Linked DNA regions of Homo sapiens: region 1 is linked to region 2. The links come from fine-mapping of genetic effects on gene expression. Tissue or cell type: blood mononuclear cells. Region 2 holds a variant in brackets; the other region holds the start of a gene. All regions are shown on one strand. Distances are from middle to middle.

Region 1 (8,000 bases), 31 kb after region 2:
GATGCAAGCCGCACGGGGGACTCCAGGTGCCATGCAGGCTGGCTCACCAGTCCCTCTCACCCCACAGGGTCCCCTGGAGGTGGCCCAGGTGTTTTTAGCAGAGATCCCGGAAGACCCCAAGCTCTTCCGGCATCACAACAAATTGCGGCTCTGCTTCAAGGACTTCTGCAAGAAGTAGGCGCAAAACCCCCCAGGAGGGGTCTCGTGTCTGCCTAACCTGCATAGGCCTGCTCTCTGCCCATCTGATCTCTGCATGGCTCCCCCATCTGCCCGATTCCCATTAAGTCCACTCTCCCAACCTGACCTCCTATTGCGGGTCTTTCTGCAGGCCTGGTCCCGCCTTATGGGTGCCCCCACCCCTAGTCTTGCTTTCAGTCCCGTGTGCGAGTCTCTGAGCATCTCCCACCCTCTGGCCCTCAGATGTGAGGATGCGCTGCGGAAAAATAAGGCCCTGATTGGGCCGGACCAGAAGGAGTACCACCGTGAGCTGGAGCGCAACTACTGCCGCCTGCGGGAGGCTCTGCAGCCCCTGCTTACCCAGCGCCTGCCCCAGCTGATGGCACCCACCCCACCCGGCCTCAGGTGCCTGACCTAGTGCCCCCATCCTAGAGACTAGAGAGGGGATGCAGAGGCAGACCAGGACAGGTACAGGATGGGGGCTGTTGTACACATACACAGCAACATGTTTGCTGGTAGCTTGGACTTTGTTTTGTTTCCGGTTTTTTTTTTGTTTTTTTTTTTGAGAGACTCTCCCTCTGTTGCCCAGGCTGGAGTGCAGTTGGCACAGTCTTGGCTCACTGCAACCTCCGCCTCCCAGATTCAAGCGAGTCTCCTGCCTCAGCCTCCTGAGTAACTGGGATTACAGGCATCTGCCACCACGCCTGGCTAATGTTTTGTATTTTTAGTAGAGACAGGGTTTCACCATGTTGGCCAGACTGGTCTCGAACTCCTGATCTCAGGTGATCCATCCGCTTTGCCCTCCTAAAGTGCTGGAATTACAGCATGAGCCACCACCACGCCTGGCTGCGGTGGCTTCAATTTTGCATAAGCATCTGAATATGTCATCCAGATGTACAAAGGCAGGGCAGGCTCTGAGCAGTCATTTCCCAGATACATGAATTCATCTTTCTGAGCCTCAGTTTCTACATCTGTAAAATGGGGATGATTCATACCTTCCGTGGTGGACTGCAAGAGAGAATCGGAGAATCCCACAGCCAGATCAGGGACAGGAGAGATCCCAGAAGGATCCTTGGAGGAAGACGAGGAGGAGGAGGAAGAGGATGTGGGCTGGGAGGTCTATGGAGTTGGGGGCCCCATGGCCATGCTGACCCACCCTCATTCTTTTTCCAGGAACTCCTTGAACAGAGCAAGTTTCCGAAAGGCAGACCTCTGAGCCCACAAGGACCAAAGCTGTACCTAGAGGAACCAGCACCCGGGCCTCAGCTGTCTGTGCTGCGAGGGGAGTCTGCCCTGGTGCCCACTGGGCTGTGGGGTGACCACACTGTACTTGGGGCTGGGCCCTCTGCCCCTGTGTCCCCATCTGTGTGCACTGATGCTTCCTCCCTTTTTTAATTTAAAATGGTTTTTATAAGCAACCTGTGCCATGTGGTGCGGTCACTAGGGGCTGGGTCACATGCTCATCACATGCTCACAGTCCACTGCCCCATATCCACACATCCCTGCATCATCAATGGGGACACCAAGAACATACTGGGTGCCAGGGACATCGTGGTGACAACAGGCAAAAATTCCTGCCCTTGTGGAGCTGATGTTCTAGTAGGGAAGGCAACACACAAATAATGTCACATGCTTACCTGCAATAACAATACCTGGTTTTTGTTTGTTTGTTTTTAACAGACGCTCTCACTCAGTCCCCCAGGCTGGAATGCAGTGTCACAGTCATAGCTCACTGCAGCCTCAAACTCCGGGGCTCAAGCCTCCTGAGTAGCAGAGATTATAGGCACATGCCACTGTGCCTGGCTTTTTTTTCTTTTTCTTTTTTTTTTTTTTAGACAGAGTTTCACTCTGTCACCCAGGCTGCAGTGCAGTGGTGCAATCTCGGCTCACGGCAACCTCCACCTCCCAGATTCAAGTTATTCTCATACCTCAGCCTCCCGAGTAGCTGGGATTACAGATGTGCACCACCATGCCAGGATAGTTTTTGTATTTTTAGTAGAGAAGGGGTTTCACCATGTTGGCCAGGCTGGTCTTGAACTCCTGACCTCAGATGATCCACCCACCTCGGACTCCCAAAGTGCTGGGATTACAGGCATGAGCCATTTCTCGGCCCCAGGTGGTTTTTTGTATTTTGTTTTTTGTAGAGATGGCGTCTTACCATATTGCCAAAGCTGGTCTCCAACTCCTTGGCTCAAATAATCCGCCCACCTTGGCCTCCCAAAGTGCTACGATTACAGGCATGAGCCACTGCGCCTGGCCTAATTTTTTTTCACTTAAAAATTTTTTTGCATAGACAGGGTCTTGCTATGTTGCCCAGGCTGGTCTCGAACTCCTGAGTTCAAGCAGTCCTCTTGCCTTGGCCTCCCTAAGCACTGAGATTACAGGTGTGAGCCACCTCGCCGGCTTAATAATATTTATTAAGCCCTTGCTGAGTGGCTGGCTGTGTACTAAAAGGGCTCCCAGAAAGATCTCTGCAAAAGTAGGCCACTCCATTTATGAGAGTTTTTAACCCGAAGGGCCTCCTTCCTGATGGTTAGGCCCCTTCCTAATGGTCAGTGAATCTTCTCAACGCTCCTATCAGGTAGCTAACATGATCATCTCCATTTTACAGATGAATAAACTGAGGCACAGAGCAGCAAAAGTTTGGTGGGTCTGGGATGGGAATGCAGGTCTGGCTGGCGCCGGCGCCCAGGACTCTGCAGCCTCCCTTCTCGCGCGGCGGTCACGCCACCGTGTGCCAGGACTGCGCTGGGCCGCTTCCAGCCCTGGGCCGCCTGGGGGAGGGGTGACCTCCCGCTGCCGCGCCCGCCCCGCGCGCCCTCCCCGAGCTGGGCCCCGGCCAGCTCCACCCCCTCCCGCCGCCGAGCCGTTCCGCCCCCCGCAGCGGCCCAGGGACAGCAGGCGGTGGGGGGGAGGCCGGCAGTGGGAGGACCCTGCCTCGGGGACTTAGGGAGGAAGGAAGGACGAGGCCGGACACCCCGGCGCGCACACACACCTGCTGTCCAGGTGAGATCCAGTCTCCAACCAGCGTCTCTCCATCCCCACCCCCCACCGCGGCCGGGGCGCCCGGGCGGCTGGAGGGGGCGGTGCCGGCTGGGGGGGCGGGACCAGCCGGAGGGGGCGTGGTGCGGGCGGAGCCACCTCCGAGGGCCGGGCGCCCAGGCTGCGGCGCGCGCGAAGACGCTCGGGCGGCGGGACCCAGGGAAGGCAGCGGCCGGAGCGCGCAAGGCGAGTGGGACCCGGGGCTGGGTAGGGGTTCAAGTCTGGTTCGGGGATCGAGTGTGCACCCCCTCCACACACACCTACTACCCTACCCCCCGCCTCCAACCCTGGGACACGACCTCGCTGGTCTCAACGAGCCGCTGCCTCCAACTCCACCTTCTGTGCCCAAACTTTCCAGACTTGGAGTGTCTGTCCCCGCGTCCCTGCCCCCTCCTCGTCTTTGACCCCATACCCCCATCGATTCCTCCCAGTACCCCCCATCGATTCCTCGTGCCCTGCCCGTTTCTCCTGTCTTGGCTCCCCTCTGCCCGCTCTCCCCTGTCTCTGTCCCACTTTCTGCCTCTGTTCCTCCCCGGCTCTGCCCTCTCCCCGCACTGTCCCCCCTCGCCCTCCTCCGCGGCCATGCCCCAGACGGCGGGAAGGCGGCCGGGCGTCCGGCCGGGCTGGGCCTGGGCTTGGCGGCTGGGCCGGCGTGGGGAGCGGCAGCTGTTTGCCATTAGCCCGGGATCCCACAGGCCCCGCCCCCTCTCTGCACGGGGCGGGGTCCTTCTCGCCTCCCCCCACCCCGAGTTTGGGGCGGGAAGACCCCCCCCCACCACCACCACCGACCTCCGCGATGTGCAGGCCGGTCTTGGGTGGTGGGTTGGGGAGACCCGCGCCCCTTCCCTGCGCTCCCTACCTGTCCCCTCTTATAGGCTCCAGTCTCTCCATCTCTGTCTTATCCTGTCACCCCTTCCCCATTCCCCAGGGGTCCCATGGCGAGAGAAGGGTCTCAGCCACAGACATCCATCTCCCCCACCACACCCCCTCGTCTCCTTTCTCTTCCCCTTACTCGGGACGTGCTGGTCCTCATCGAGGGCGGTGAGATGACTGAGTACCCTCAGACCTCAGTCTCCGTATCTGGGAAACGGGTAGAGATATCTGATGTGGAGTCTGAGGGTGGTGGCTTGGTGGGCAGTGGGGGGATCCACCAGGCTTAGGTTCATGTTCAGGCCCAGCCACTTCCCCATGGCCCCAGTGACCCCGAGGAAGCCACTGTACCTTTCTGTACCCTCTGCATCCCCTGTCTGTGAAACGGGGCGATAAGTGCCCATCTCATAGAATTGTCATGACAATTAAAAGAGTTGATGTTAGGCTGGGTGCAGTGGCTCATGCCTGTAATCCCAGCACTTTGGGAGGCCAAGGCGGGCGGATCACCTGAGGTCAGGAGTTCGAGACCAGCCTGACCAACATGGAGAAACACCATCTCTACTAAAAATACAGAATTAGCTAGGCGTGGTGGCAGGTGCCTGTAATCCCAGCTACTCAGGAGGCTGAGGCAGGAGAATCGCTTGAACCTGGGAGGCAGAGGTTGCCGTGAGCTGAGATCGCGCCATTGCACTCCAGCCTGGGCGACAAGAGCAAAACTCCGTCTCAGAAAAAAAAAAAAAAAAGAGTTGATGTTAGTATTACTGTTACTATACTATTTACCCAGCAGCACCCTCACTTCCCCCACCCCCAGCCCACCCCGCTCGGCTATTCCAATCCTGCTCCAATCCCGCTTGCTCCCTGCTTCTCCATCTCTCTTTGGTGGCCAGAAAATATTTTCAATCAACTTTCTGTTGCTCAGGGGTGAGCCTCCAGGCAAATGGAAAACGGAATTTCCTGCAATTGGTGACCATGTGTTCCAGGTGTTGAAAGACAGAGAAGCGAAGACAGAGACGTGGAAAGACAGGGAGAGAGACACGGAGAGAGACGCAGAAGGACAGAGACGTGGAGAGAGACGCAGAGAGACAGAGACGTGGAGAGACACAGAGAGACGTGGAGAGACACAGAGAGACTTGGAGAGAGACAAAGCAAGACAGGACGGGAGAACAAGGACAAGCTCAGGTGCCCCTGGAGCCCCAGCCCTGCCTTCATGCCCAGCAGGTGCCCTACCTGGCCCATCCTCCCAAGGTACCTGCCGGCCCCAGCACTCAAAGGCCAGAAAGGATTTACTCTGATGGTGGGATGGGCTGGGGCCTCTGCAGCATGATGGCTGGAGGTCAGATAACAGAAAGGACCAGCCAAGTTCAGATGGGTTATATTGGGGACAAAAGAGCCCTGGCCGGCCTCCAAGGCTGAGGGGGGTTTAGTGAGAGGCTCTGACTGTCCCTCCCTTTTGCAGCCTCCAGGCGCCCCCTCTTACTTCCTCCCCTCCACCCCCAGGACTTCCTGGGCCTCCACCCGGCCCTCTATCCCTACTGCGCCCCTGGGCCCGGACGCATCCTAGGCGGGCAGGAAGTTCTGTGTAGCCCGGCAGTGAAACTGTTTATTTTTAGAGAAAATTGTTTCCATAAAGGGGAAAGGCTTCACTCCTAGCTGCCTCCCCAACTTTCCCTACCCCTTCCCCCCGACCCAGTCCAGGCCTGACCCAGCTCTCAGCTTTGGGGTCACTGGGGGTCCCCTTCGCCATGCTTTGCCTCTCTTTGTCCCCCTGCGTCTCTGTCTCCTCAGATCCTTGCAGGAAGACGAGGTTCCCTTCTTCCCCAACCCCTTAGCGCCTCAACCCCCATCCTTCCGTGTGGCCAGCTCCGGGCCTGGGCTGAGGGGAGGGGGTGCAGGAAGGGTGGGGCCTGTTGGGCTTGGGGCCCCCCAGCCCCAGGGCTATGTGGAGGCTGGGCTATGGGAACAGCTGGAGCCTGTCCAGGGCCTGGACAGATGTGCAAGCAGGCAGTGAGGTTTGGTTTCTTTGTTCCAGACCTGCGGGGGGGAGGGGGTCGGGGGGGGCCCTTCCGCAGCCAGGCTGGGTGTGCGTCTATGAGTGGGTCCCAGACCTGGGTTGGGGGGCTGGGTGAACCAGCTGTGGAGGGGGCTGGCCTCATCTCCTCCCCTCCCCCTACAGACTCCTAACTCCCGGCGCCGTGGTTCTCTTTCCCCAGGTAAGCCTCAGCCGGTGCTGCAGGCAGTCTGACTCGCAGTCCCTCAAGTGACTTCCAAGGAGCATCTGTAGAAAAGAAGATGGCCCAGGTCCTGCACGTGCCTGCTCCCTTCCCAGGTCAGGGGACTCAGGGAAGAGGGCCCTGCCCCGGGGAGCTTCAGTTCTGGAGGCCTGAGGGGGCTGGGGACCTTGCCCTGGGGACTTTGAGGGTGGGACACAGCCCAACAATTAGAGGTCTGAGGGAGGAGGCAGAGTCCTGCCCTGGGAGGGTCTGAAGGGGGAGGCAGAGTCTTACCGGAAAAAGGGGGTAGTCTAAGCCGAGGGATAGAGCCCTGTCCTGGGGGATTTGAGAGGCGACATAGCCTAGCGCCGGGAGTCTGAAGGGGAGGCATAGCCCTGCTCTGGAGGGTCTGAGAGCAGACGCGGTTGAGTACCAGGTGGGCTCCCATCTCTTCGGCAAATAAACCCCAACTCTCCCCAGGCATCAGTCTTCACCCTGAGAATGGGGACAAGAGGATTCAAAGGTCCTGGTGTTTCTCCCATCCCCAGGGACCCCTGGCCCAGCCTCCCCACCTGCCTTCCCTGCCAAGGACCCCGATCCACCCTACTCCGTGGAGACCCCCTATGGCTACCGCCTGGACCTGGACTTCCTCAAGTACGTGGATGACATCGAGAAGGGCCACACGCTGCGACGCGTGGCAGTGCAGCGCCGCCCCCGCCTGAGCTCGCTGCCCCGTGGCCCTGGCTCCTGGTGGACGTCCACTGAGTCGCTGTGCTCCAATGCCAGTGGGGACAGCCGCCACTCAGCCTATTCCTACTGCGGCCGTGGCTTCTACCCTCAGTATGGTGCTCTGGAGACCCGCGGTGGCTTCAATCCGCGGGTGGAGCGCACGCTGCTGGATGCCCGTCGCCGTCTCGAGGACCAGGCGGCCACACCCACCGGCCTGGGCTCCCTGACCCCCAGTGCGGCCGGCTCGACAGCCTCCCTGGTGGGCGTGGGGTTGCCACCCCCGACACCACGGAGTTCAGGACTGTCCACACCGGTGCCTCCCAGTGCCGGGCACCTGGCCCACGTGCGGGAGCAGATGGCGGGTGCCCTGCGGAAGCTGCGGCAGCTGGAGGAGCAGGTGAAGCTGATCCCTGTGCTCCAGGTGAAGCTCTCGGTGCTCCAGGAGGAAAAGCGGCAGCTCACAGTACAACTTAAGAGCCAGAAGTTCCTGGGCCACCCCACAGCGGGCCGGGGTCGCAGCGAGCTCTGCCTGGACCTCCCCGATCCCCCAGAGGACCCAGTGGCACTGGAGACCCGGAGTGTGGGCACCTGGGTTCGAGAACGGGACTTGGGCATGCCTGATGGGGAGGCTGCCCTCGCCGCCAAGGTCGCTGTGCTGGAGACCCAGCTCAAGAAGGCGCTGCAGGAGCTGCAGGCAGCTCAGGCCCGGCAGGCTGACCCCCAGCCCCAGGCCTGGCCACCGCCGGACAGCCCGGTCCGCGTGGATACAGTCCGGGTGGTAGAAGGGCCACGGGAGGTGGAGGTGGTGGCCAGCACAGCCGCTGGCGCCCCCGCACAGCGGGCCCAGAGCCTGGAGCCTTACGGCACAGGGCTGAGGGCCCTGGCAATGCCTGGTAGGCCTGAGAGCCCACCTGTGTTCCGCAGCCAGGAGGTGGTGGAGACAATGTGCCCAGTGCCCGCTGCAGCTACCAG
Region 2 (8,000 bases):
ACTCTCAAAGGGCTGGAATGGAACCTCTCGGCTCCCCTATCCCATTTTAGACAAAGAGCTCCCCTTACCCTGCCTCTTTCCAGGTACCTGGTGTAGGGGGACGCTTTGCCTCCAAACAGACCTGGGTTCAAGTCCTAGCTCTGCTATGAGCTCACCCCATGCTCTGAGCAATTGGATGCATCTTCCTGAGCCTCAGTTTCTTCATTTGTAAAATGGAGATAACACTCCAAATTTTCGGATGCAGTTTGGACTCAAAATATAGTGCTCCCCCAGCAGTCCTGAGCCTGTGCTTGAGTTAGGGCTGAGGGCACTGCAGTGGGATTTTGTTGGGATGATAGATTCTTGGTCTGGCCTTGACCCTGAGCTTCCAGCTAGTTGGGGAAATAGACACGGATCAAACAAATGCATAAGTATATGATCACACAGCGTGGAAAGGAAGCAAGTAGCAACCGAATACCAGCTTCCCTCTGGGTGGTCTTGGGGGCTTCTCCAGGGGAGTGACATCTTTTGCTGGGACCCGAAGGGTAAGATAGAGTCAGCTAGGGAAGGGTGGGTGGGTGTGGGTGTTCAGGAAGAGGGAAAGGCATGTACAAATATTGGGACCAAGGTCAGAGGACTGTACGCACAGAGAGGAGGCCACAGGGCTTGCTTCCTTACACACTTGGCCCTAGGGCCTATTCCAGCTCTGTGCCCATCACCAAGGTAACCTGTACCCTATGACAGGCCCAGGGGACTCCTAGCAGAACAAGCAGGGGGGGCCTTTGGGCAGTCATTTCCTTGGATTGCTGGGAATCTGGAAATCTGGGTGACACTGAGGCTGGGCCTTTTCAATGGAAGGCCCTCACGGTGCACAGTGAGTTGCCAGGGTATGGCTGGGACTGGGGTAGCTAGAGAGCCCTCAAGTGTCAGAGTAGGTCCCAGGGTTGGGTCGTCTCTGTCATCAGACCTCCTGTTCCTGCGAGCAGCCTCACCCCCTAACCAGCGAAGGAGGAAGCGAGAGTGGAGCTTGAACTCCTCTGCCTATACCCATTTCACAGATGGGGATACTGAGGCCCAAGCCAGGCTTGGGCAGGGCCAGGCCTGGAACCTTGGGCTCTCTCTGCTATTCCTGGCACCTCACCAACATCTCACCTCCTCTGTCCTTATCTTCCTGCCTTGTCTTTCTCCTCCTTCCCCATCTTGTGTTTAACCTCCTCTGTCCACACTCACCCTCCTCCACCTCTGCATCCTCCTCTCTGTCCTCTAGACTCACTGACTCGGTCACACTCTACACCTCGTCTACACTCACCCTCACCTTCTCTGGCCACACACATTCTTGCTGTCTACACTGATTTCATCTCCTCTGCCTTCACCCCACACACCATGTACCCATTCCCAGCCTTCGTGTGTTCTCGGTCCCACTCCATCCACACTCCTCCTGCCTGTTGTGGTTGCACTGCTGTCACTGGTCACTGGCGTACTGTGTTTTCATTGTTATTCTCACCTCCTCCATCACGTTCTTTTTTTTTTGAGACGGAGTCTCGCTCTTATCACTCAGGCTGGAGTGCAATGGTGCAATCTCGGCTCACTGCAGGCTCTGCCTCCCAGGTTCAAGCGATTCTCCTGCCTCAGCCTCCCAAGTAGCTGGAATTACAGGTGCCTGCCACCACGCCCAGCTAATTTTTGTATTTTTAGTAGAGACGGGGTTTCACCATTCACCATGTTGACTAGGATGGTCTCGATCTCCTGACCTCGTGATCTACCTGCCTCGGCCTCCCAAAGTGCTAGGATTACAGCATCCTCCTTTTTTTTTTTTTTTTTTTTTTGAGATGGAGTCTTGCTCTGTCACCCAAGCTAGAGTGCAGTGGTACCATCACAGCTCACCGCAACCTCCAAGTCCCAGGGTCAAGCAATCCTCCTGCTTTGGCCTCCTGAGCAGCTGGGACTACAGGCACACGCCACCAGGCCCAGCCATATATATATATTTTTGTTTGTTTGTTTGTTTTTGTCTTAGTAGAGTCAATGTCTGACTATGTTGCCCAGGCTGATCTTAAACTCCTGGGTTTGAGCAGTCTTCCTGCCCCAGCCTCCCAAAGTGCTGGGATAACAGGTATTGAGCCACCCCGCCCAGCCTCACGTTCTTCTCCCATACCCACACACCTTGATCTTGACTCACCCAGCTCTCTCCAGCGACTCTTTTATTTGTCCCTGCCTCCACTGCCCCGTCTACTCCCACAGCACCCTGGCCATTCCAACCAGCCTCCCCTCCCAACCCACGCCGGCCCATCTCTCTTTCTTGCCTGTCCCCATTGGCATCCATGGCCCTGGTCCATCCATGTGGAAGCATTTCTCTCTCTATATTCACACTAACCTACCTCTTTTCCCCATCCCTGTCTGTGTGAACACGTCTTTCCTCCAACCACATACCCCTTCACCTCATCCACACTAACCTTCTCCTCGCCATCACATCCCATCATAGGCCATCGACTGCAACTCTAGCCGAGCCTCCTCCTACCTCGAGGGTTCCTCCTCGGCCCCACCAGCCACCCAGCTGAGACCCACTGTGCAGAAGGTAGTGGGGGGAGGTGCGGATGACGCTATTTTTGTCCTGGTCCCCAGCAAAGGGGTCCAGTGCTCCTCCCCCATCCAGAGTCCAGGGGGGTCTGGCGAGCCCAGGGAAAGGGCACTTCCACTCCTCTTGTCCCCCTCCTCCTGCCTGGCTCCTGCTGCACTAACCCCGAGCCCTCCAGCTGCATCTTCCCCTGGCATGTCTCCAGAGGGGGTACGGGAAGGGGTGGCACCTCGCACTCTGTGACCCCTGCCTCTGTCCCCAGCTGCTTCACGAGGAGCTGGCTCTGCAGTGGGTGGTCAGCAGCAGTGCCGTACGCGAGGCCATCCTCCAGCACGCCTGGTTCTTCTTCCAGCTCATGGTGAGACCCCCTCCTCCCTGCCTGGTGGCAAGAGACCCCCAGTGGAGCCCCTTCCTTTTTTAAAGAGAGAAGCCCCCTGGCCAGGCATAGTGGCT[C/T]ACACCTGTAATCCCAACACTTTGGGAGGCCGAGGCGGGCGGATCACGAGGTCAGGAGATCGAGACCATCCTGGCTAACACGGTGAAACCCCGTCTCTACTAAAAATACAAAAAAAAATTAGCCAGGAGTGGTGGCAGGCGCCTGTAGTCCCAGATACTCGGGAGGCTGAGGCAGAAGAATGGCGTGCACCCAGGAGGAGGAGCTTGCAGTGAGCCGAGATCGTGCCACTGCACTCCAGCCTGGGCGACAGAGCGAGACTCTGTCTCAAAAAAAAAAAAAAAAAGAGAGAAGCCCCCTGAAATTGCACCTGAGATATTTGAGAAATGGCCCCAAGAGACCCCCCCCCACAACCTAGGGAGGTGAGAGGCACTTAAGGTGGTGTCTCCCTGGAGAGACTGTACCTGAAACCACCTTTAGAGAGAGCCACCCTTCCCCATGAGACTCTTTAAGGAGAGAAACCATTAAGAGACCCTCACCTAGACAGGAGACCTGCATCCTGCAGGAGATATTCCTGGATAGAGAGAGAAAGCTGTGGTCAGGCACAGTGGCTCACGCCTGTAATCCCAGCACTTTGGGAGGCCGAGGCGGGTGGATCACTTGAGGTCAGGAGTTTGAGACCAGCCTGGCCAACATGGTGAAACCCCATCTCTACTAAAAATACAAAAGTTAGCCGGGCGTAGTAGTGCGTGCCTGTAATCTCAGCTACATGGGAGACTGAGGCAGGAGAATCGCTTGAACCCAGTAGGCAGAGGTTGCAGTGAGTCAAGATTATGCCACTGCACACCAGCCTGGGTGACGGCAAGACTCCATCTCAAAAAAAAAAAAAAAAAAAGAGGGAAAGCTTTCTGATCAAGGTAAGACACATCCCTAAAACTCTTCAATAGGTTATTTGAAGCCTCCTTCCCAGGGCCTGCTGGCTGCATCCCCTCTGGGCCTCCAATAAAGCTCCCTTCAAATCCAGTGCCTCAAGCCCCACCCTTTGTCCCACCTCTGACTTGCCCTGGGGAGACCCGCATAAGCCCCTCCCACATCCTCTCAGCCTTCCCACTCTCTACACTTTGCCTGGGATGCTCACAGGATCTGCCCACGGCTTTCTTAAGCCCCATCCATAGGTCACAAGCCCCACCCACATCCCTCAGGCCCCAGCTTCTACCTGCAGCTACAGGGCTCAAACCTACCTTCAGCCCACCTCCATTGCTAATAAAGCCCCGCCCCTCCTGTCAAGCCTCCTCCACCCACAGCCCTTCAAGCCCCACCCACAGTCCTTCAAGCCCCACCCACAGCCCTTCAAGCCCCACCCACAGCCCTTCAAGTCCTACCCACAGCCCTTCAAATCCCACCCACAGCCCTCTCACCCCACCCCCAGGTGAAGAGTATGGCGCTGCACCTGCTGCTTGGCCAGCGACTAGACACACCCCGCAAGCTGCGCTTCCCCGGACGCTTCCTGGACGACATCACTGCCTTGGTGGGCTCTGTGGGCCTGGAGGTCATCACCCGTGTCCACAAGGTGAGAGATGCAGGGTCTCAATGTGGGAAGAAACCTGAGGGAGGACATAGAGCCAGCCAGGTGGGGGCGCCAATCCTGCCCAGTGTCTCCTGGCCGTAAGACCAGGAATCCACTTTGCTGGGTGGATCCGTTCATTCATTGTCTGTTTCTTAAGTGCCTGTAACGTGCACAGCCCTGTGCTGGGTGTAGCAATATAACAATAAACAAAACAGACCCAAATCCTTACCCTTGTGTAGCTTTTAAGGGGAGACTTGAAGAAAGTAAGGGATCATTCCATGCAATGTCTGGGGAAAGAGCATTCCAGGCAGGGGGAATAGCAGGTGCAAAGGCCCTGAGGCAAGACCATGCTTGGGCTAACAGTAGAGCAGTAAGGATGGCTAGATTGTAGTGAATGAGGAAGGAAATGAGGGTTGGTGGGAGCGGGGAAGTGACAAGGCAGATCCATTAACCCTTAGCACAGTCAGAGTATACAGCAAGTGCTCAATAAATGGATGTTGATGTTCTGAGACCCTGACAGTGGACTTGTTCAGGCCCTGGATTACCAATTCCAATGCCCTCAGGGGCTAGGCAGGCAATACTAATCATAATAGTAATAATATGGAGCATTTATTGAGCACTTACTGTATATCTAAGCATTTTATGTGGATCGTATCATTTTTTTGTTGTTGTTTTTTTTCTGAGACAGAGTTTCACTCTTGTTGTCCAGGCTGGAGTGCGATGGCGCAATCTTGGCTCACCACAACCTCCGCCTCCCAGGTTCAAGCGATTCTCCTGCCTCAGCCTCCCAAGTAGCTGGGATTACAGGCATGCACTACCACGCCCAGCTAATTTTGTATTTTCAGTAGAGACAGTGTTTCTCCATGTTGGCCTGGCTGGTCTGGAACTCCTAACCTCAGGTGATCTGCCCGCCTTGCCCTCCCAAAGTGCTGGGATTACAGGCGTGAGCCACCGCGCCCGGCCTTGGATCGTATCATTAAATTCTCACAACAACCCATGAAGTTAGTATTATTGTTATCTCCATTTTACTGATGGGGAAACTGAGGCATCGAATGAGTGGTAGCTTAACCTTGTACCACACGACTGAGAAGGGGCAGAATGAGGCTTTTGAATCTGAGCCACCAGCTCCAGACCCCTCACTGTCAATACCAGTTTCAGCTGGGAAAGTGGGGCTTATGGTGGAGCAGAGGGCAGATGTCCCACCTAACAGGGGTGACCATCACTCAATCCAGCCAACAGAAACCCTGCAGGAATGTGGCTCAGCTATGTCCAGATTGGCTGTTTTTGTTTTTGTTTGGAGATAGGGTCTTGCTGTGTTGCCCAGGCTGGAGCGCAGTGGTGCGATCATAGTTCACGGCAGCCTTGACCTCCTGGGCTCAAGGGATCCTCTCTCCTCAGCCTCCCAAGTAGCTGTGACCAGAGGCACAAGCCAACATACTTGGCAATTTTTTTTTTTTTTTTTTTTTTTTTTAGTAGAGTCAGGGTCTCACTATGTTGCCCAGACTGGTCTCCAACTCCTGAGCTCAAGGGCTTCTCCCACTTTGGCTTCCCAAAGTGCCGGGATTACAAGCGTGAACCATGCCTGGCCAGATTGACTGGGGTTTTTTTGTGTGTGGTTTTGTTTTTGTTTTTTTATTTGTTTTTGTTTGAGACACGGTCTTGCTCTGTTGTCCAGACTAGAGTGTGGTGGTGTGATCATGGCTCACTGTAGCCTCAAACTCCTGGGCTAAAGCAATCCTCCCACCTCAGCCTCCAGAGTAGCTGGGGCTACAGGTGCGTGCTACCATACCCACCTATTTTTGTGTGTGTGTGTGTGTGTAGAGATGGGGTCTTCCTATGTTCCCATGCCAGGAGATGGCCTGGTGTCTAAGGAGAAATGGGACCTCTGGATTTGCTGGGAACTTTCCAGATTTTTGAAATGGCGTTCTGGCCCAGGCCAACCCTTACACAATCACATGTGACCTCCAAGCTGGTCTCAAAGGTTCTGGCCTTGTCTCACTGGAGCCTTCCCAAAGACTGACATTCCCAGGGGCTGATCCAGATGGTGAGGAAACTACCCCAAGAAAGAGATCCAGAGAAGAACAATGCCTGTGATAATCCACTTTTTTTTTTGAGATGGAGTCTTGCTCTGTCCCCGAGGCTGGAGTGCAATGGCACGATCTCGGCTCACCGCAACCTCCGCCTCCCAGGTTCAAGCAATTCTCCTGCCTCAGCCTCCTGAGTAGCTGGGACTACAGGGGTGCGCCACCATGCCCGGCTAATTTTTTTTTTTTTTTGAGACGGAGTCTCATTCTGTCGCCCAGGCGGGAGTGCAGTGGCGCAATCTCAGCTCACTGCAACCTCCTCCTCCTGGGTTCAAGCGATTCTCCTGGCTCAGCCTCCCAAGTAGCTGGGACTATAGGCGCCCACCACCACCCCTGGCTAATTTTTTGTATTTTTAGTAGAGATGGGGTTTCACCATATTGGCCAGGCTGATCTCAAACTCCTGACCCTGTGATCCACCCACCTCAGCCTCCTAAAGTGCTAGGATTACAGGCAGGAGCCACCATGCCTGGCCGGGTTGCAGGGATTTGAGGGCCACTGAGGCTAACTTGTGAGGCCTCAGAGTGGCTCAAGAGAGTATGAGGGCAGAACGAATACCAGCTGGGCCTCAGGGCCACATCAGCCACCTCACTGTTCCCCGGACTTGCTAGGCACATCCTGCCTCAGGGCCTTTGCACTGACTGTTCCCTTAACCCAGGATGCCATTCTCCCCATGGCTCTTTGGTATCCTTCAGTATCTCTGAAAATGTCACCCCCGTCTGTTAAGGTTGGTGACAAGTAATTATAGGCTGGGCATGGTGGCTCACGCCTGTAATCCCAACACTTTAGGAGGCCGAGGAGGGCGGATCACCTGAGGTCAGGAGTTTGAGACCAGCCTTACCAACATGGTGAAACCCTGTCTCTACTAAAAACACAGAAGTTAGCCAGGTGTGGTGGTGCGCACCTGTAATCCCAGCTACTCAGAAGGCTGAGGCAGGAGAATCGCTTGAACCCAGGAGGCAGAGGTTGCAGTGAGCCGAGATCGCGCCATTGCACTATAGCCTGGGCGACAGAGCAAGACTCCGTCTCAAAAAAAAAAAAAAGAAAGAAAGAAAGAAAGAAAGAAAAGTAATTACAGTTTTTGCCATTGAAAGTAATTGCAAAACTGCAATTACTTTTGCACCAATTTAATATTGTCTTTGAAGCACATAGAACTATCTGAAATTCTTGTTTATTTTGTGTCTCCCTGCCCCCGCCCCACACACACACACTGGATTGAGTTGGACCCGCAGCAGGGATGGCATCTGCCTCATTCACAGGGATTGGCACAGAGTAGATGCTCAGTAAAGCTCACATTAAATGGTGCTGAGAGGCCGGGTGCGGTATCTCACGCCTGTAATCCCAGCACTTTGGGAAGCCAAGGGAAGCAGATCACCTGAGGTCAGGAGTTCGAGACCAGCCTGACCAAT

The links. PIP is the estimated chance that this variant, and not a neighbour inherited with it, causes the effect.
Region 1: KANK2 starts here. The variant in region 2 is fine-mapped to the expression of KANK2 in blood mononuclear cells (TOPMed, PIP above 0.99).

The regions. Positions count from the first base shown.
Region 1 is chr19:11,192,890-11,200,889 of GRCh38, reverse strand. It overlaps KANK2 (KN motif and ankyrin repeat domains 2), which reads left to right and starts at 3,345. Exons shown (of 13, transcript NM_001136191.3): 1 at 3,345-3,405; 2 at 5,070-5,268; 3 at 6,300-6,415; 4 at 6,848-8,000. The coding sequence starts at 6,379. It overlaps DOCK6 (dedicator of cytokinesis 6), which reads left to right. Exons shown (of 48, transcript NM_020812.4): 46 at 68-174; 47 at 421-582; 48 at 1,351-1,595. The coding sequence ends at 1,393. RefSeq lists a silencer at 2,862-3,481.
Region 2 is chr19:11,223,849-11,231,848 of GRCh38, reverse strand. DOCK6 (dedicator of cytokinesis 6) reads left to right here. Exons shown (of 48, transcript NM_020812.4): 23 at 2,814-2,909; 24 at 4,372-4,512. Among named protein-coding and RNA genes, the nearest start is that of ANGPTL8, 12 kb to the left of the region's middle. The variant C/T (reference allele first, on the strand shown) is at 3,005.